Linked DNA regions of Homo sapiens: region 1 is linked to region 2. The links come from fine-mapping of genetic effects on gene expression. A gene starts in region 2. The other region holds a variant in brackets. All regions are shown on one strand. Distances are from middle to middle. Region 1 overlaps PISD (phosphatidylserine decarboxylase). Region 2 holds the start of PISD (phosphatidylserine decarboxylase).

Region 1 (9,913 bases), 36 kb after region 2:
CAACTCACCATTGAATAGGGAATGGGCGTGCTCAGTTGCTCCCACAGATGTGAACAAGGCTACTTAATGCCACACCTTTTCTTTGGTTGAATGGTGATCCCTCTCAGACCCTTCCCCTCCCCTAAAAGCATTAAGCTGATTGGTCTGATCCCATGTGGGCTGAGTGCTTGTCGGATGCCTGGCACCATGTGGGTACGGGGTGGACTGCCAAGCCGCAGACTAGGGCCCTCCGATCTAGCGGGGTGGGAAGACAGCATGCATCATCCATCCCATGGGCTCTGCATCCTAGTAGTGAAGCAGGGAGGCCTGTGTGCTCTAGGCTGGGGCGGTCGGACCTTGTTTCTGGCTGCCCTTGTTCGCTGGTCTACATCAGTTTTGGAGTCAGGGCATTCTGTTTGTCAGGGTTTTGCGTGCCTGGAGGGCAGAAGGTTGGGGTGGGAGCAGCCTTGTAGCTTCAAGATGGGATGCGGGAAGGATCAAGGATTTCGCATTCTCTGGAGCTTCCTAGGGCTAGCAGGGGTGGCTTTCTGTTCAGTCCAGTGAAGAAGCTGGTCCTCAGTGAGGTCAGCAGCACGTGGGGTCCTGAGTCTGCCTAGTGTTGGGTCGCGGGTGGTGGAGGGGAGGCAGCTGCTTTGGGAGGCCAGCCACGGGCTGCAGACAGGCGGCTCACAGACCAGCGGACAGACTGAGGACAGACAGGAGGCATCCCTTGGGAGCAGCCGGGCCCACCTTGCTGGTTGAGTGGGGTCCTCCCGTGACAGTGACCAAGCAGAGCTGGTGTCTGCTGCCCTTCCCCTTCTCCCTGGCCTTGGCCCTTCCTCTTAAAGGGGCCCTCGGGTTGGGCGGACGGCCCAGCAGGACTGGGGCTCAGAGGGGGCGGCAGCTTTAAGGGTGGCTGGGGTCGGCCTCCTGCCCCCGCCCCTGGTAGTCTGAGTGGCTGGAGCCCGAGCCCCGCCCACTCGCCCCAAGGCTTCCCGGCTCCGGGAGCGCCCCTAGGGAGTCGGAGCCCGGAAGCTGGAGCCACCTGCGGGTGAGTGAGCGGAGCCGGCGCCCCGGCCCTGCCGGGAGCCCCAGGTGACTTCTCAGGGAGGCGCCCCACCCTGCCCGCTCAGAGGGCCAGTGCCGGGTGGGGGTGCCCTTCTAGGGCCTTCGGTCGCAGGTGGGCTCTCCCAGCTGTGACGACGCGGCCCCGGCCTGAGGAGCCCCGCGGACAAGGTTGAGCGAGTCGTGGGCTTTTTTTCCGTCCCCACGTGGGCACGGCCCGGGCTGCGTGAGCTCACTTCCTCCACATCTTATCTCCTGCCGGGCGCGGGTACGGGAAGTGAAGAGCGTACGGGAAGTGAGGCGGCCGCGGGAAGTGAGGGGGTGCCTGCAGTGAGGCGGCTGCAGGAAGTGAGGGGGTGCCGGCTGGCATTGGCGGGGCCCGGGCTGAGAGCTCCGTCTCCTTGGTGCTGCCGGAGGGCCTGGGGGCAGGCCGCCTGGGGAAGAGGGCGGCGCCCGAGGGCCAGGGAGCGGGTGGCCGGCTTACTGCCTTTGCCCAGAGCCGGTTCCCCTCAGCACCCAGAGTTGTCTGAGAGGAGGTTCCCTGTCTTTGGGCGGCTAGGATAGACCCCTGCGAGTCCTGCCTGCCCTCTTCCCAGGGCCTCCTGGGCTGCCTGCCACTGACTCTGGTCCATGTCGCCCAGGGAGGACCATTTTCCCCGTCTCCTACTTGGGAAGTTTGCCTGCTTCTAGCTCAGGAATGCAGGGAAGGCAGGGTTGTCGCCCCACTAGACGCACGCCGCTGCATGGTGGCCAGGCCTCAGCTGAGCTGGGGAGAAAGTCAGCCCCTTGCCCCCACCCTCGCCCCCGGGGGAAGTGCATGGCCCGCAGTCAGGCCACTGGACACAGGATTTGGGGCCCTGGAAGTTTCTGCTGAGGCTTCAAGAGGGGTGGTCCTGGCGTTCCAGGCGCTTCCCATCAGACAGCAGGAGCCAGTTCTCAGGGTCCTTGGCTGAACACACAAGCTGCAAAGCTACATATACTCCGGCAGAGCTGGCTGCGGGCTGCAGACTGCAGGTGACAGTGCCATATCCCTCACTGCCTGCTCCGCCTTGCTAAGGCTTGAACCAGAATCCACTAGGAGCAGGACTGTAAGTGTATACACGCATACCCCTACACACACACACCCCTGCACCTACACACACCCTCATGCACACACCCCCTACCTACACACACCCCCTCACCTACACACACCCCTTGCACCTACACACCCATACACGCACGCGCCCCCTACAGGCACACACCCCCTCACCTACACACACCCTCGCACCTACATACACACCCCTATATGCGCCCACCCTCACACCTACGCACATGCCTCCTACATGCACACACCTTGCACCTGTGCACACCCCCTCCAGGCACATAACCTCACACCTACGCACACACCACCTATACGCATAACACACTCACACCTACACACCCCCTACACACACCCTCACACCTACACACCCCACACATCCTCGCACCTATACACGCACCCCTCCATGCACATACCCTTGCACCTGCACACGTATCCTCCATGCACACACACTTCCACCTACATGCACCTACCCCTCACGCACAACAATCTTGCAGGCCCCAACCCAACCTGTAGTAACTGCTGCCTGGCCTGGGGTCATTCATCGACTTCAGTTGGAATGTTCCATTCCACTGGGGGGGCAGGTGTTGTGGTCTTTACCCTGGTTGGTGAGGGACGGGTGGGGACACTGCCTTACTGCTCTGGTATGGATCCCCAAAACAGCATGTCCTGACAAAGGTGTTCCCCTACCCCCTATACGGTCCTATCAGCCATTGTTTCCTATTCACAGGGCCGGTCACTCCGCGCAAGTTTGGGTTCCTGTTTTAGAACTGCCACCTAAGCCCCTCTTATTTCATCTTTCCTGTGGTGGAAACCCCTGCCCCCACCGGAGTGTGAGGTTGACTTTTTGGAAAGAGAGGTGAGGTGTTGGAAGCCAGGTCTGAGGCTGCGTCGCGCTCCTAGGTGGAAGTGGGGTTTCTGAGCAGTTGTTCTGGGCCATGGTTGCAGCTGTGCTCTGAGCCTCAAGGGGGTGGCCAGGAGGAATTTCCTTTCCCATTTTCCAGATGTACAAACCAAGACTTAGAGACTACCTGTGACTTGCCAATGCCTTTCCCTGCTCTCAGGGCAGAGGTAGAGGAAGGCAGCCAGGATTGCAGTGACCAGGTTGTCATCAGCCACAAAGCCCTCTGAGTTCTCATGTTGCAGGTGACTGGCCCTTAGGCCATGTAGTGACATTAAAGTCCTATTGGTCACAACCCTAAACTCCTCTCCACAGAATGTCTTTGAGGCTTAGAAGGGAGGGAAGGTGTCAGTGCTTCCTCCATTCTGGATACCCTTCTTGCAAGCTCCTCATCCAGGGCCTGAGGCTCCCACCTCGTGTCACCTCAAGACAGCCAGAGAGGATGAAATCTTTGGCTTGGGCTTCCAGGGCTGTCATAGGCAGAGGGCAAGCCAGGATTTGAAATAGGGAGGCCAGAAACACTGCTGGCCAAGGAAGTGGCTTGGCCTTGGGAAGCAAGAAGGCAGCAACCTCTAGGCGCCCCTTCTCTCCATCCTGCAGCTCTGAGAGGGACAGACGGTGCTCAGCCTGTGTCCTGGGGCAAAGCTGGATTCATTTTCCTCCCTGGCGATCTTCTGGGGCCCACAGCTGGTGATATGGAGGCACTGACACCCTGGTCTCGGCGCTTGTTTTAGAAGAGGCAGAACAGTGATAAAGACAAGGATCTAAATGGGCAAGGACGCCCTGCCCTCACTGGGCTCACTGGCAGGTGCGGTGCCCCAGCCTGGCCTCTCAGGATGGTTCTTAGTCTCTCCAGGGCTCACCTTTCCCTGATGGGCATCTGACCTGGCCCCTGGCCTCATGTGCCTTGATTCCTCAGTAGGGCCCCCTCTGAGACCGGAGGCCAGACCCAGCCCCTCACAGCACCATGGGAGAATGAAATGCCAAGGCTCACAGGGGAACCTGCTTTGAGAACCCAAGGTTTTTGGCCGAGCTGGGTTTATCTGGGTTCATGTCTTTCTAATACATTCAGGGCTGTGGTCGTCACTGTCCCACATGGTAGGTCAGTGAGGAAAACTGGCAGGAGGCTGGGGCTCCCCAAGGCCCCTCCTCTCTGCCTCCCCTCAAGGCCACGCTTGCCTCCCTCTGAATCCTGGCTGTGAGCTCAGTTCCAAGCCTGCACTCTATAGACCAGGGAAAGAGCTTCCCCTTTGGAACCAGGCACCAGGCTCACCCCTGACTGCTATCACCCCTGTTTCCTGGGCAGATGGCAGGAGGCCAGCATGGAGCCTGGTGGGCCAGGGAGGGTGGGGCGTTTGCTCAGTATGTTGGCGGAGTGGTTGGAGTGACATGGCCCTGGAGGCCTGGACACTGGGGCTGTCTATGGGCCTGGGCCTCGGCCTTGAGATGCAATGGGCCTCTTGTGCCTGTGCCAATCTCCTGGTGCCGGCACCTTCCCAAGGGAGGATGCTGGTGTGTATCTGTTTGCTGGTGGGTAGGCGCCCTCCTGCCTGACCCATCTGCAGTGAGCTGTCCCCGTCACTCATTTAGGAGAGGGGCCTGGACCAGCCCCAGCCTGGATCGGGGGAGAAATCCACGCTTGTGTCTGACCTTAGTCACCTTATTGTCCTGGCTCCAAGAGGCCACTGAATCTCATACCCGGGGCTTCGGTGATTCTTGCAGGCAGGTTCCCGGGCGGAATCTTCACCTGTGTGGCTGAGGAGGGTTTGCCAGGGCGTCAGATGTTCAACCACGCGCGACCACAGCGATGTCTGAGTTAGGCCTCATGGCGGGCTGGCCATGCCTGGCCTATTCTTTGCTTTAGATGGCAGCTCTTGGGGCCACATTTCATCATCTAAGGATGGTGACAGGTGCCTGCCCCTTCCTGGGCAGTGGCTGGGGGTGAAGGACTGGAGGGGTGGGCTCCCTGTCAGCCCATATCCTGGAGGGCCTTGATTGCCTGGGCTGAGATAGCACAGCTTCAGCATGTTTGCTCTTCCTTCCGCTATCTGTGCAGGCCAAGGTGGAGAGGCTTTGTAGGGGCCGGGTGTGTCCTCCCAGATAGCCAGGCTGGGGCCCTGGCCAAAGTGCTTTTCTGAAGCAACGATGGAAAAAGGGGAGTGGAACTGGTTTGTGCTGCAGTCCTGGCCTGTTCCCAGCCCCAGGCTGGTTTTCCCCACATGCACAGCTTCTGAGGAGGCCTGGAGCAGGGAGCTGGGTATTTTGTGTGTGTGTTGGTGGGGGGTCAAGGCCAGGAGGGGTGAGGAGAGAGCCAGAG[C/T]AGGTAAGATGCCAGGTTCTCACCAGGGCACCTCTCGTGGCTTCCCGCTCATCTCATTCCTCAGATGCTACTTTGTAACCTGAATTGAAAATGGGTCAGGTCCTGGCAAGGGAGGGGCCAAACTGCAGACCGGCTGACGCGGTGCTGGGCCTGGGCCTGGAGCACGGGGCTCAAGTTCCCACTTTGTGCGTTTGGAGCCAAGTGGGGCCTGAAAGCCCTGGCAGCAGTGGCTGGTCCCCTCCCTGTCATGGCTTACTGGACCGGGCAGCCCTAGGGCCTTGCCCCCTACTGCCTCCCCAGGCCAGCTGAGGAAGAGGATGAGCAGTGCAGGCTGGCTCAGCCCTGGGTAGCAGGGACAGAGCAGGTGGCCAGGACTGGGGACAGTGGGCTTTAGTGCAGGGGCTTTTGCACTGGACTGCAAGCCCTGAGCAGGTGACCTGAGCAGGTGTGTGACCAGTGCCTGTCTGTCTGCAATAGCCCTGACCCTCTATTCTGCACCCTGTGAGCCACCGAGACTGAACCAAACCCAGGAAGCGGCGCCACCAACCAGCCTCGCAGAGGCAGAGGCCCTGGAGCAGTGACAGCACAGGAGATCTGCTGGCTCGGGGGAAGGGGAGGAAAGAGGAAAACAAAGGGAGTGATCGAGTGAGCCTCGCCCCGCCCTCCCTGCGCCGGCCCATGATGTGTCAGTCAGAGGCGCGGCAAGGACCAGAGCTCCGCGCGGCGAAATGGTGAGATGCTGCCCACCGCGCCCTAACCCCACGGTTCCCCGCCACGACCTCCGGAAGGTCAGAGTTCACATCCAGCGGCCTCGCAGTAGAGGTGGCGGCAAGGGGACTGGTGGTCAGCCCCCGAGGCTGGAGGAGCCTGGCCTGGGGGGCCTGAGCACCCTGAGTCGGAGAGCCCGCTTCAGGTATCTTTGGTTCCAACCATGAGGAGGGCCCAGCAGGGGGAGGCTGCCAGCGAGCCTCAGACCTCATGCCTGCGATCTTCCCTACCCTGGTGCTCCCAGGCCCCCTGCTCGCAGCCCAGACCCTTGCCTCTGCACCCCACCTAGGAGAGAGGCTTCCCCATTCCCCTTCCTGCCCATGGGAGGGGTGTAGCTCTTCCCAGTTGGTCCCTGCTCTTCTGCAGTGAGTGGGGCAGGTGGCAAAGCCAGAGGGGAGCAGTGATTTGTCTTTGCTTGGCCCCTGCCACCTTCCTGGACCTTTTAAAAATACACCGGGGTGCGATGGGAGAGAAAGTAGGCACCCGGGAGCTGCGTGGATGCAGCCAGCTCTGAGCCTGAGCCTGAGCGGGGTTCGCCACTGGTTCGCCTGCCGTCTGCTCTGCTGCTATCAGCTGAGATGCTGCTTTGTTCCTTGGTTTGCTCAGCAACTGGGAGAGAGGACTCAGCTTCTCTTGAGAGCACAGTCCCAGATGGCAGCCGTAGATTAGCTAAATGCAGTTACTTTGCAGATGAGGAAACTGAGACCTGGGGACGTTCTGAGTGGATGGCAGTGTGGTCTCCTGCTGGCTACCCTGGGCCTCAGGAGCATTTGCTAGGCCTAGGCACAGACAGGGTGGGGTGGGCCTTGTTTAGGCGCAGGAGGCCAGGGTTGTGGTGGAAAGGCCCGTCCAGCCTCTGCGGCTCTGGTGAAGCTGAGCCCCTGCTGAGTGCCCTGCATTTGTGCTGGGAGGGTGGGGAGAGGCCGGATCACAGAGAGGCTGGATGCAGAAAGGAGGGGCTTGGGTCTCGTGTGTGTGTGTGTGTGTGTGTGTGTGTGTGTGTGTGTGTGTGTCCACCTTTGCTGAAAGGAGGGGCTTGGGATGGGTGTGTGTGTGTGTGTGTGTGTGTGTCTGTCTGTGCAGCCCCAGCAGAGCAGACAGGTGGCTTGAGAGCTTGTGGTGGGGAGGTTTTGTTCACAAACCTGTGGATGGGTTTTCAGAACCTGGCCTGTTATAGAAAGACCATGCAGATGGATGGAGCCGTAGCTGTGTGGTGGTGGTAGGCGGAGTGTAAATGCTCCCTTTGAGATCTTGTCTGGCCTTGGCCCCGTAATTTAGCAGATGAGGAAAGGGGGGGCCTGGAACCATGAAAAGGATATCCCAGATCCTGCAAAGGATGGTAGCGGAAGACTCAGCAAATGGTTACCCAGCTGGCTGGGTCGTAGCTCCTCAGCGCTATGTGCTGCCGTGCCAGTGCCTGTGTGGCAGAGCTGGCCCCTGGGGCCCACTCTCCTGGGCTGCGGAGGCTGAGGGATGTGAGGCAGGCCCTACACCCTGCTCTCCCCTTCCTGGGCCCAGGTGCTTGGGCCTGGAGGCCCTTGCTGGGAGCTGCTGCAGCTGAGAGGTGCCCCGCAGCTGGGCCTGACTCTCCTCTTGCGGCTGCCCCCACATTCCCAGTCCTCCCCAGCTGGCTGGCGGGTGGGAGAGCCTGGGAAATGAGTCCGCTAGCCAGAGGCAGCCAAGCCCCTGAATCAGAATGGGGTTGGGACGAGGGGGCACAGCCAGTGCTTGCTGGGCTCCATCACCCCCATGGAGAGGCAGCTTGCCAAGGGTGGGTAGACAGGAGGAATCCTGCCCTGGGTGCAGGTGGCAGCCTCCTGGGTCCTGCCCAGAGCCTGGCCACTGACCTGGCTGTGCATGGACCTGTGCCCTGCAGGTTGCACTTCCCCCAGCTGGCCCTGAGGCGGAGGCTGGGGCAGCTGAGCTGCATGTCCAGACCCGCTCTGAAACTGCGCTCCTGGCCCTTGACCGTCCTCTACTACCTCCTGCCCTTCGGCGCCCTCAGACCGCTCAGCCGGGTGGGATGGAGGCCCGTAAGCAGGGTAAGTGTGCACAGGCCCCTGTGGCTCGGACCTCCCTTCCGGGCAGGCCTGAGGTTGGGGTGCAGGAGAGACTGAGGTGGTGGCGAGCTGTCAGAAGCAGAGGTCACCGCTACATCTTCAGGGGGTCCGGGTCGGAAGGTTCATTGGTGGGCAAGGCCAAGGCAGCTTTTGAGAAGGCCACTACCTGGGCCGCGGGTGACTGCGAGGGCATGTCGTGCCCTGCCCACTCCCCTAGCCTGCCTCATGTCTGCCATTTGGGGCTCTGGTTCTGGAAGGAACCCAGTCTGGGGATTCAGAAAATGGTGTCTGTCTCTGATTTTTCTGTGTTCAAGCAAAAAAGAGCTTATAGGTGATTTTGAACAGAAGCCAAATTAATTCCGGGATGCCAAAGGGGTGGTTCAGGATGGATGGATCCTGTTTGGGTCCCTTAGGGTGAGGACACCCTTAAGGAACCCAGAGGCATGCCCCAGGAATGGGCAAGGGAACTGGCTTGTCCTCTCCTGGTCCCTAGAGGGCTTGCTCTTGCCCTTGGCTTCCCAGGCAGGTTGACCCCAAGGAGGAAACCCTGTTCCTGGGCCTTTGACAGTCACATGGGTGTCATCAGAGCTCAGGGGCACTGAGGCACCCTGGACATTAGCCCAGGCTCCCACCTGTGCCTGGGAAGGGCCTGGGCTCACATAGCCCTTCTGTGTGACTGGGCATCAGCTGGAAGGGATAAGAGCAGCTCTCTGGGAGCTTACCTTACCTTGGAGAGGTGTTGAAAGTTGGAATGAAATCAGTTTTACACCTTGGGGAGTTGGTGTCTTGGTTGTGTTTAGAGAAGCAGCAGCCACCAATTACAGGCAGCTTCTACAGTGGCAGCAGCACCTGAAGTTTAAGAGGCTGCCCCTTCCTGGGTACCTGGCCCTGCCGGAGAGCTCTGGGACCATCTAGTGGGACCCAGTGCTTGTCCCCAGGCCATCGTCTGTCTTAGGTGCTCCAGGCTTCCCTGAAGGAAGAGAGAACAGAGGGGCCTGAGGGGATGACTTCTCTTTGCCTCCTGGGAGGAACCCCAGGTGCAGATGGCTTTATGGCCTGGCTCAGTCACAGTAGAACGTTGAACACAAGTCCTGCCGTGGGGCCAAGGTGGGGCTCAGCAGGGCTGGGCTTCTCAGACTGGCTGCATCCAGGCCCTCAAGAGTGCTGGCTGGACCTGTGGGGGCTGCAGACCCTGTGTCTGCAGCTCAGGCCCAGGTGACAGTGACATCGCAGACCTGCATCTGAAAATCCCTGTTGGTGCTCAGGGTATCCTCCTTCTTCCTGTTAAGACAGAGGGACACACTTTGGGCTGTAGACTTGTTCCATGCACTTGGGAGCCTCCTCCTTTGGTGGTCTGGGATATGGGCAGTGACCACGGGCAAGATGCCCACCACCTCTCCACACACTGTGATATTGGGGTCACCGTGGCTAGGGTCACACACTGTGGTTAGGATCAGATCCGTTTCCGACCCCCACTTTAAGAAGTAAGACTGCTGGGCGTCTCCCGTTCTGGGACTGGAGCAGTTGCTATTTGACTTTTGCATGAAATGATGAAATCCACTGGAGTTGTATGTAAATCCAGCACTCCGTGTGGCAGGTGCAGTCTGGTTCCCAGTGAGAAACAGCCACATCACAAAAGCAGCGTGGGGCACCTGGGCCCTGGTGTCCTCCGTGGGGTGCAGATTCTCCCCTGAAGTGAGAGCTGGGCTAATGACACTACTTGGGCTCTCTGGAGCTGGGGCAGT
Region 2 (9,913 bases):
ACAGGCATGCACCACCACACCCAGCTAATTTTTGTATTTTTACTAGAGACAGGGTTTTACCATATTGGCCAGGCAATCTCGAACTCCTGACCTCATGATCCGCCCTCCTTGGCCTCTCAAAATGCTGGGATTACAGGTGTGAGCCACCGAGCCCAGCCCGACCAGCTAATTTTGTCTCTACTAAAAAGTAGAGACAGGGTTTCACCATGTTGGCCTGGCTGGTCTTGAACTCCTGACCTCAGGTGATCCACCCACCTTGGCCTTCCAAAGTGTTGGGATTACAGGTGTGAGCCACTGTGCCCAGCCTAAAATCAACCATTTTAAAGTGGACAATTCAGTGACATTTAGTACATTCACAACGTGGTGTACCATTTCTGTCTAATTCAGGACAAATTTTATCATCTCAAAATAAAACCTTGTTGTGCCTATCAGGTAGTTACCAATGTTTCCCAATTTTAACAGATTAAGAAATGGACTAAGACAATAGGAAAAGTGCTGGCTGGGAGCCATGGCTCACACTTGTAATCCCAACTTTTTGGGAGGTCGAGGTAAGAGGATTACTTGAGCCTAAGAGTTGGAGACCAGCCTGGGTAACATAGTGAGACCCTCATCTCTATAAAAAATACAAAATAAGCTGAGTGTGGTGGTGTGCACCCGTAATCCCAGCTACTCGGGAGGCTGAGGTGGGAGGATTGCTTGAGCCTGGGAGGTCCAGGTTGCAGTGAGCCATGATTGTGCCACTGCACTCTAGCCTGGGTGTCAGAGCAATATCCTGTCTCAAAAAAAAAAAAAAAAAAAAAGAAAAAGAAAAAGAAAAAAAGTGCTAAGGACCCACAACAAAATTTTTAATATTAAAATTAAAAAATGAGGCTGGGTGCGATGGCTCATGCCTGTAATCCCAACACTTCGGGAGGCCGAGGCAGGAGGATCACTTGAGCCCCCGAATTTGGGATCAGCCTGGCCAACATGACGAAACCCTGTCTCTCTAAACAAAAATACAAAATTTAGCCAGGCGTGGTGGCCAGTGCTTGTAATTGAAGGCACTGGAGAGGCTGAGGCAAGAGAATCGTTTGAACCCGGTAGGCGGAGATTGCAGTGAGCCGATATCGCGGGCCACTGCACTCCAGCCTGGGCCACAGAGTGAAACTCTGTCTCAAAGGAAAAAAAGGAAAAGAATATAATAATAATGAATTCAGCTTGGATTTATAAATATAAATGTGTTAATATAAAGACAATAGTCTTTATACCAATACGGTTGTAAAATAAAATTCTTAATTTTTTATGGAGAAAAGGGTCAGTCCACTGAGGCAAAAGTGCTTGGGGCTCACGAAAGCCTCGAAGCTCTGCCACTACCATCCACACTGCAAAAATCCTTTGAAAACAAAATTGAGGCAAGCTCGTTTTTTTTTTTTTTCTTGAGACGGAGTCTCGCTCTGTCGCCCAGGCTGGAGTGCAGTGGCGCTATCTCAGCTCACTGCAAGCTCTGCCTTCCGGGTTTACGCCATTCTCCTGCCTCAGCCTCCAGAGTAGCTGGGACTACAGACGCCCGCCACCACGTCCGGCTAATTTTTTTGTATTTTTAGTAGAGACGGGGTTTCACCGTGTTAGCCAGGATGGTCTCGATCTCCTGCCCTCGTGATGCGCACGTCTCCGCCTCCCAAAGTGCTGGGATTACAGGCGTGAGCCACCGCGCCCAGCCAAGCAAGCTCGTTCTTAAATGCTAGGCTAATTCTGCCCCCTAGCGGCCACAGAGAAATCTCAGAAATTAATGCCCCCAGTTGTTGAGTAATTCGCACCTACCAGGTGCCTTGAACTTACGCTGCATTATTTTGTCCTCACAATTCCATGAGGTTAAGTGATATCCAAATGTATAGATAAGCTGCCGAAGATTCGAGTGCTTAAGTCGGTTTGTTGTTGTTTTTTTTTGAGACGGGGTCTCAAAAGACAGGATCTTACGGAAGTTAATGCTGTTTCCTACTGAAGGAGGCACAGCGAGCGCAAGCCTTGGTGGGCAGGAAGCGTGCTTTAAAGTTTGAGACTGTCAGGCCCGGCGCGGTGGCTCACGCCTGTAATCCTGGCACTTTGGGAGGCCGAGGCGGGCAGACTTGAGGTCAGCAATTTGAGACCAGTCCGGCTAACATGATGAAAACCCGTTTCTACTAAAAATTCGAAAATTAGCTGGGTGTGTGGCACGCCTGTAGTCCCAGCTACTCGGAAGGCTGAGGCAGGAGAATCGCTTGAACCCGGGAGGTGGAGGCTGCAGTGAGCCGAGATCGCATCTCTGCACTCCAACCTGGGCAACAGAGTGAGGCTCTGTCTCAAAAAATAAAGTTGGAGACTTTTATTCTAAAAGCATTCAGTGAGCCATTTATTTATTTATTTTCCTGTAAGCTTGGAAAAATAGGTTCTTCCCCACCCATCTACATGACAGTAATGAGCAAATATCCTTATCAGATAATACATGATTTGCAAACATTTTCTTTCATTCTGTGGGTTGCCTTTTCTCTCTCTCTCTCTTTTTTTTAAGGCAGAGTTTCACTCTTGTTGCCCAGGCTGGAGTGCAATGGTACGATCTCGGCTCACCACAACCTCCACCTCCCATATTCAAGTGATTCTCTTGCCTCAGCCTCCCGAGTAGATGGGATTACAGGCTTGCGCCACCACATGCGGCTAATTTTTGTATTTTTACTACAGACAGGGTTTCACCACGTTGGCCAGGCTAGTCTCCAACTCCTGATCTCAGGTGATCTGCCCGCCTTGGCCTCCCAAAGTGCTGGGGTTACAGGCGTGAGACACCGCGCCCAGCGTCTTTTCACTCTCTTGATAGTGTTCTTTGATGCACAAAAGTTTTAATTTCGAAGTATATCTTTTTGTTGTTTTTGTTGTTGTTGCCTGTGCTTTTAACGTCATATACAAGAAATCATTGCTAAATCCAACGTCATGAAGATTTCCCCTATGTTTTCGTCTAAGAGTATTATAGTTTTAGCTCTTCAGTTTACATCTCTGATCCATTTTGAATGAATTTTTGTATATGGTGTAAGGCTGCACTTTACTTTTTGTATATGGATATTCAGTTTTCCCAATGCACTTCATTTGGAAATAATTTCCCCCCATTCCCTGCTGGTTTACTACTCTCAATTGGATAGTAAAACCAATTAAACCAATATGTATTTTTTTTTTAAATGGTGTCTCACTCTGTCTCCCAGGCTGGAGTGCAATGGCATTATCTCAGCTCACTGCAACCTCCCCCTCCCGGGTTCAAGCAATTCTCGTACCTCAGCCTCTGGAGTAGCTGGGATTACAGGCAGGCGCCACTATGCCCAGCTAATTTTTGTATTTTTAATAGAGATGGGGTTTCACCATGTTGGCCAGGCTGGTCTCGAACTCCTGACCTCAGGTGATCCGCCCGCCTTGGCCTCCCAAAGTGCTGGGATCATAGGGTGAGCCACGGTGCCCAGCCTCTTAAAAAAAAAAAAAAAGAGATGGAGTCTCACTATGTTGTCCAGGCTGGTCTCTTTTTTACTTCCTTTTTTTTTTTTTTTTTTTTTTTGAGACGGAGTCTCACTCTGTCACCCAGGCTGGAGTGCAATGGCGCGATCTCGGCTCGCTGCAAGTCCGCCTCCCGGGTTCACGCCATCCTCCTGCCTCAGCCTCCAGAGTAGCTGGGACTACAGGCGCCCGCCACCACGCCCGGCTAATTTTTTTTGTATTTTTAGTAGAGATGGGGTTTCATCGTGTTAGCCAGGATGGTCTCAATCTCTTGACCTCGTGATCCGCCCACCTCGGCCTCCCAAAGTGCTGAGATTACAGGCGTGAGCCACCGCGCCCGGCCCAGGCTGGTCTCAACTCCTTGGCTCAAGCTATCCTCCCACCTCAGCCTCCCAGTGAGTGGGGATTGCAGGCGTGAGCCACTGCGCCCGGCCAAAACCAATTCTATACATTTGTTTTTTTCTTTTCCGACTTTTGAAAACCATGACAAAGGGAGGTTTCTTCCCCCCAATACCAAACCTGGTGCCTTTTAAGCTCTCTGTAGGAGCTGAGTATGCCCTAGTTGAACTTAAGCCAACTACACAGAAATACCTGCAGGGACCAGGGAGCATATTCCTCCTCCTGTCAAATGCCTGGTGAAGGCAACTGTGATTATCAGCTTAGCAGATGAAAAAGTAGGGCTGCATTCCTTCAGTTGTTGGACCCAAATTCTGCCAGATTCTGACAAAGGGCTTAAAAGGAAGAATGTTTAGGCCAGGTGCGGTGGCTCACGCTTGTAATCCCAGCATTTTGAGAAGCCGAGGCGGGCGGATCACGAGGTCAGGAGATCGAGACCATCCTGGCTAACATGGTGAAACCCCGTCTCTACGAAAAATATATATAAAAAAATTAGCCGGGCGTTGTGGCGGGCGCCTGTAGTCCCAGCTACTCGGGAGGCTGAGGCAGGAGAATGGCGTCAACCCGGGAGGCGGAGCTTGCAGTGAATCGAGATCGCGCCACTGCACTCCAGCCTGGGCGACAATGAGAGACTCTGTCTCAAAAAAAAAAAAAAAAGAAGAAGATGTTTAGGACATGGTTTTTGGAGTCAGAGACGTATGTTCAAATTCTGGCTTCACTATTTTATAGTCTTTGGGCATATGCCCTTTATGTACCCTTGAAGATGTTGCTTAACCTTCCTGAGCCTCAGGTACCTCATCTTTAAAATGGGGATAATGTCTCGGGCCTAGCTGCGAGTCTCTAGTCAGTGCTCAGTAAAAAGTAGCAGACATGATTGAAAACTCGTTTTCCTCTTACAATTGAAGATAGGAACCTTTTCAAGAGCAAGCACCAGGCACCGAATTTAACGACTGGTTGCATTTCTAGGTGATCCAAGACCGTTTGCCCCCGGTCTCCCTGGCAGCACAGCGGTAGGAGATAAGAATGATATGACACCATGCTTGCAAAGTGCTCACAACACACTCCGGCGCTTAAAAAACGAGAGCTGAGTCATGGATGCCCAGTTTCCCCATCCGTAAAATGAGCAAGTTCGATCACTTGAAACGACATTCTTGGATCTTGGATGACTCAGATTTTCCAGGTACATGAGGAAAGGCACCCAGAGGGAAGGAGGAGGAGTGGCAGTGCTGCGACCAAGCCCAGGTTTAGCGAAACCTACAGCTCCACTAGTTCCCCTACCTCCGCAGGTGCCAAGCGGGTTAGGTGGGGAGTAGCCACAGGGCGGAGCTTAGTCGGCTCCGCCCCCAACCCGCGCTTTTCTCATTGGCCCACTGAACTCGAGACTCGTGACGCCTTAAGCGTGCGCCCAGCGTGTGAAGGGGGCGTGGCACGCTGAGAAGGAGCAGACAAGATGGCGACGTCCGTGGGGCACCGATGTCTGGGATTACTGCACGGGGTCGCGCCGTGGCGGAGCAGGTATAGCAGCGCGGAGAGACTACCTTGGGGCGTGGGGCAACCTGGACCAAGCTGGGGTCTGAAGAGAGATGTTTCTGTGTCGCGGGCTCGCTCTGAGGCGAGCTCGGGTGGAGACGGAGCCACCTTCACCTCGAGCTTAGGAGCAGGTGCGACTGCTCCTGCGTAGGGCGGTCCGGATTTACTTAGGGTGTGGCCTAGAAGCTCGCGCTTTGCCCTTTCCAGCTAGGTGGAAGTTCACGAGGGACAAAAATCAGATGAAATAGGCTACCTGCCCGTCTCTTGAGTCGAGGCAGGGCTTTCAGATGTTCAGATGCCATTTTCTCGTGTGTTCGTTTTCGTAGAAGGAATGATGTCCTGTGGGAAGGACACTAGATTGAGTGTCAGGCAACTTTCATTTCTGGATCTTAGTCTTTGAAGCTAGAGGGTTAGGTTAGGTAATCTCAAAACAATATGTTATGGGGCTAGAGTCTTGGTTACCCTTGTGACCCCCAGCTGTTAGATTCTTAGAAATGTGGGAGACTTGAGGGGTCTTCTGAGTCCAGCTGTCTCTCTTTGGAGTTAATGAGATTGAGGCTCCGAGAGAGGGAGGGATTTGCTCAAGTTCACCTAGCCAGTTTGTAGCAGAGCCCGGACCCCCATCAAGGTACCCCCTCACGCGACGATCTTTCTCTCAGGCTGCCCGCCGTGAGGGCAGTGGTTATACAGAAAATAGCTTAGAGCATTTGGAGTGTCGGAAAATGGATTAAAATGTAGCTGTGATTCAGAGTCGGCTGCCTGGTGTCATTTCAAAGAGCTAAGATTTGAGAGATGCGCCATACTTGTGTGTTTCCTACAGGGTTCATTTTGTCAGCGTTGATCAGAGGATAACCTATTGTTTTGGGAGGAGACGGACACTGGATTTGGACTGAGAGGGAACAGAAACCATCATTGGTCTTGTTATGAAAGCGTCACTCTTTCATCATTAACTGTACAGAAATGATTATCTCTCAGGAGAGGGCTCTGCATTGTGGTGGTAACTGTTAGAATTTGGGCAGGAGACTTTGTTTTCAATGTTATTACCAGGCGTGCTGTGTATGAGTCAACCCTGAATTCATTTAAAGTGTGTCACAGGCTGGGCGCGGTGGCTCACGCCTGTAACCTCAGCACTTTGGTAGGCCAAGGTGGGTGGATCACTTGAGGTCAGGAGTTCGAGACCAGCCTGGCCAATGTGGTGAAACCCTGTCTCTACTAAAAAATACAAAAATTAGCCGGGCATGGTGGCAGGCACCTGTAATCCCAGCTACTTGGGAGGCTGAGGCAGGAGAATTGCTTGAACCTGGGAGGCGGAGGTTGCAATAAGCCAAGACTGCGCCGCTGGAGTCCAGCCTGGGCGACAGAGTGAGACTCTGTCTCAAAAAAATTAAAAATAAATAAAGTGTGTCACGAATTGAAAGGACTAAAATGAGACTCTTAAAAAATTGTTTTTTGTTGTTGTTATTTGTTTTGGAAGTCAGAGCCTCACTCTGTTGCCCAAGAGGGAGTGCAGTGGTGTGATGATGGCTCACTGCAGCCTCCACCTCCTGGTCTCAAGCAGTTCTTCCACCTCAGCCTCCTGAGTAGCTAGGACCACAGGTGCACGCCACCCCGCCCAGCTGCATTTTTTTTGGGGGTGGGGGTGGAGACAGGGTTTCACCATGTTGCCCAGGCTGGTGTTGAACTCCTGGGCTCAAGTGATCCACCCACTTTCACCTCTCTAAGTGCTGGCATTACAGAAGTGAGCCATCGCAGTCCACCTAAAATAATTTTTTTAAATGATGAGAGGAGGCTGTACCTCAGTCACCATCATTAAAAGGGAAAGAAAAAAAGCTATGTTTTAGTACCAGTGTAGATAGATAAGGCTAGACTTAGATGCAGTGGGTGAGAGAGATGAAGATTTGGGTACAATAAGAAACCTTAATTTTCAAAGGTATTCTATATCAAGATAGAAATGATATTAATACACAAACCAAAAAGATAACATTTCTGTGGGTTTTTAGTAAACCAGTGCCTATTTGTGAGACATGTAAATGAAAACCTTATATTTCAGGTAAGTTTTTCAATAACTGGGTGATGTGTGACAGGTGATAGATAACATCTTGGGTGATAATTTAGGGCCATGTTTCCTAAACTCATTTGATAAAAGAATGGGCTGAATGGGCTGGGATGCTTGTTAGAAATAGAGATTCCTTGGGAGTCTCTCTGAGCCTGCTGTAGTTTGGGAGGCTGGCTGATTAAAAAAAACAAAGCCGGGCACGGTGGCGCATGCCTGTAATCCCAGCACTTTGGGAGGCCAAGGTGGGTGGATCATGAGGTCAGGAGATCGAGACCAGCCTGGCCAACATGCTGAAACCCCGTCTCTAACAAAAATTAGCCGGGTGTGGTGGCGTGTGTCTGTAGTCCCAACTACTCAGGAGGTTGAGGCAGGAGAATCTCCTGAACCCGGGAGGCGGAAGTTGCAGTGAGCCGAGATCACGCCACTGGACTCCAGCTTCGGCAACAGAGCAAGACTCCGTCTCAAAAAAAAAAAGATTCCAGATATGCCCCCATCCTACTGCCAATTTCAGATTCAGTAGATATAAGTTGGGGCTCTGGCAACTGTAGTTTTTACAGGTGATTCTTAGGTTCAGGCAAGTACGGACAATAGTACCTAGGAAGTAGCTTCTCGTGCATGACTTCCATCAGAAATATTTATGGCATCCCTACCACTGCAAACCACACTGTCAACGGACCATAGAGAAGGGAGAAGAGAGAAGGGAAGGGGAGCAAATGAAGAAATTAAAAACATTTGAAATAGGCCTTGTCTTCAAGGAACTTTACTATATACTTGTAATACATGGTGGAATACGGGATAAAGCCTTCAAGAGGTCTGTCCGTTCTGTTTTAGGAGAACTTTCACAGCTTTAGAAAGCAAGGGAGACATAAGGACTATAGGCAAAATGTTACTACTAGGGGTGATGTTAAAAATGTCTTAGGCCTGGGCGTGGTGTCTCATGCCTGTAATCCCAGCATTTTGGGAGGCTAAGGCGGGTGGATTGCATGAGCTCAGGAGTTCAAGACCAGCCTGGGCAACATGGCAAAAACCCATCTGTACAAAAAACACAAAAATTAGCTGGTCATAGTGGTGCATACATGTAGTCCCAGCCACCTGGGAGGCTGAGGTAGGAGGATTGCCTGAGCCCAGGAGGTTGAGGCTGCAGTGAGCCAAGATCATGCCACTGCACTCCAGCCTGGGCAACAGAGTGAGACCCTGTCTCAAAAAAAAAAAAAAAAGAAAAAGAAAAAATAGTGCAACTGGCCAGGTGTGGTGGCTTATGTCTGTAATCTCAACACTTTGGGAGGCTGAGGCAGGAGAATTGCTTGAGCCCAAGAGTTCGAGACCAACCTGAGCAACATAGTGAGACCTCCTCTCCGCAAAAAATGGCTGGGTGCACATCTGTGGTCCCAGCTACTTGGGAAGCTAAGGTGGGAGGTTCACTTGTGCCCAGGAGGTCGAGGCTGCAGTGAGCTGTGATTTCACCACTGCATTCCAGCCTGGGTGACAGAGTGAGACCCTGTCTCAAAAAACAAACAAACAAACAAACAAACTTATAACCAGGATGCCATGGAGACAGACTAGTGAGAGTGAATGCTGGTCATAGATGATTGATATGACCATCTCAGTGTATGTCAGCTGAATATCAACTCTTAATAATAACAGTCTAACTAGGTGCCAGGCCCTGAGCTAAGGTTTTGCATGATTGTCTTCTAATGAGGTGAGTTTTGTTTTTGCAGGTGGAGAAACTGAGGCTTAAGATTAGTTAAGAAATTTCCTAAGGTCACACAGCTGCTAAGAAGTGGCAGCGCTGAGATTTGAGTTGCACAGGCAGACTGGAGTGCTCAATTGTGGGCTTTAATTGCCTACTTGAAGGATGCGATGTAGAATGCATGTAGAAGAGACATCTGTTTGAACCCATCCATTCATCTTTCTGGGGCATACTGTCACTATTGAGATTGAAGGCCAGTGAGAACACAGATAAACCCCGTGTTCATCGAGGTATACATACAGTAAACAAATAACTGAATACATGCAGAATCCATTCATTTTGTGTAATAAGAAATGCCATGAAGAAAAAGAAAGCAAGATAATTAAGAAGTTAGTGCTCAACAGAAAGACAAACTTTGCATGTTCTCACTTATTTGTGGGAGCTGTAAATTAAAACGGTTGAACTCATGGAGATAGTAGAAGGATGGTTACCAGAAGCTGGAAAGGGTAGTGGGGGGATGGGAAGAAATGGGGATGGTTAATGGGTATCAAAAAAATAAAATGGGCTGGGTGCAGTGGCTCACGCCTGTAATCCCAGCACTTTGGAGGCCCAGGCGGGTGGATCACCTGAGGTCAGGAGTTCAACACCAGCGTGGCCAACAAACCCTGTCACTACTAAAACTACAAAAAAAAATTAGCCGGGTGTGGTGGTGTGCTCCTGTAATCCCAGCTACTCAGGAGGCTGAGGTAGGA

The links. PIP is the estimated chance that this variant, and not a neighbour inherited with it, causes the effect.
Region 1: its variant is fine-mapped to the expression of PISD in testis (GTEx, PIP 0.97).

The regions. Positions count from the first base shown.
Region 1 is chr22:31,621,921-31,631,833 of GRCh38, reverse strand. The region is part of intron 3 of PISD (phosphatidylserine decarboxylase); the gene reads left to right. Among named protein-coding and RNA genes, the nearest start is that of MIR7109, 5.3 kb to the right of the region's middle. RefSeq lists enhancers at 1,177-1,471, 4,596-5,148, 5,702-6,255, 6,808-7,361, 3,998-8,455 and 2 more and a silencer at 830-1,249. The variant C/T (reference allele first, on the strand shown) is at 5,341.
Region 2 is chr22:31,657,631-31,667,543 of GRCh38, reverse strand. PISD (phosphatidylserine decarboxylase) reads left to right here and starts at 5,329. Exons shown (of 8, transcript NM_001326411.2): 1 at 5,329-5,400. The coding sequence starts at 5,336. RefSeq lists enhancers at 2,062-2,563, 5,289-5,588, 5,829-5,878, 5,096-6,295, 6,269-6,408 and 2 more.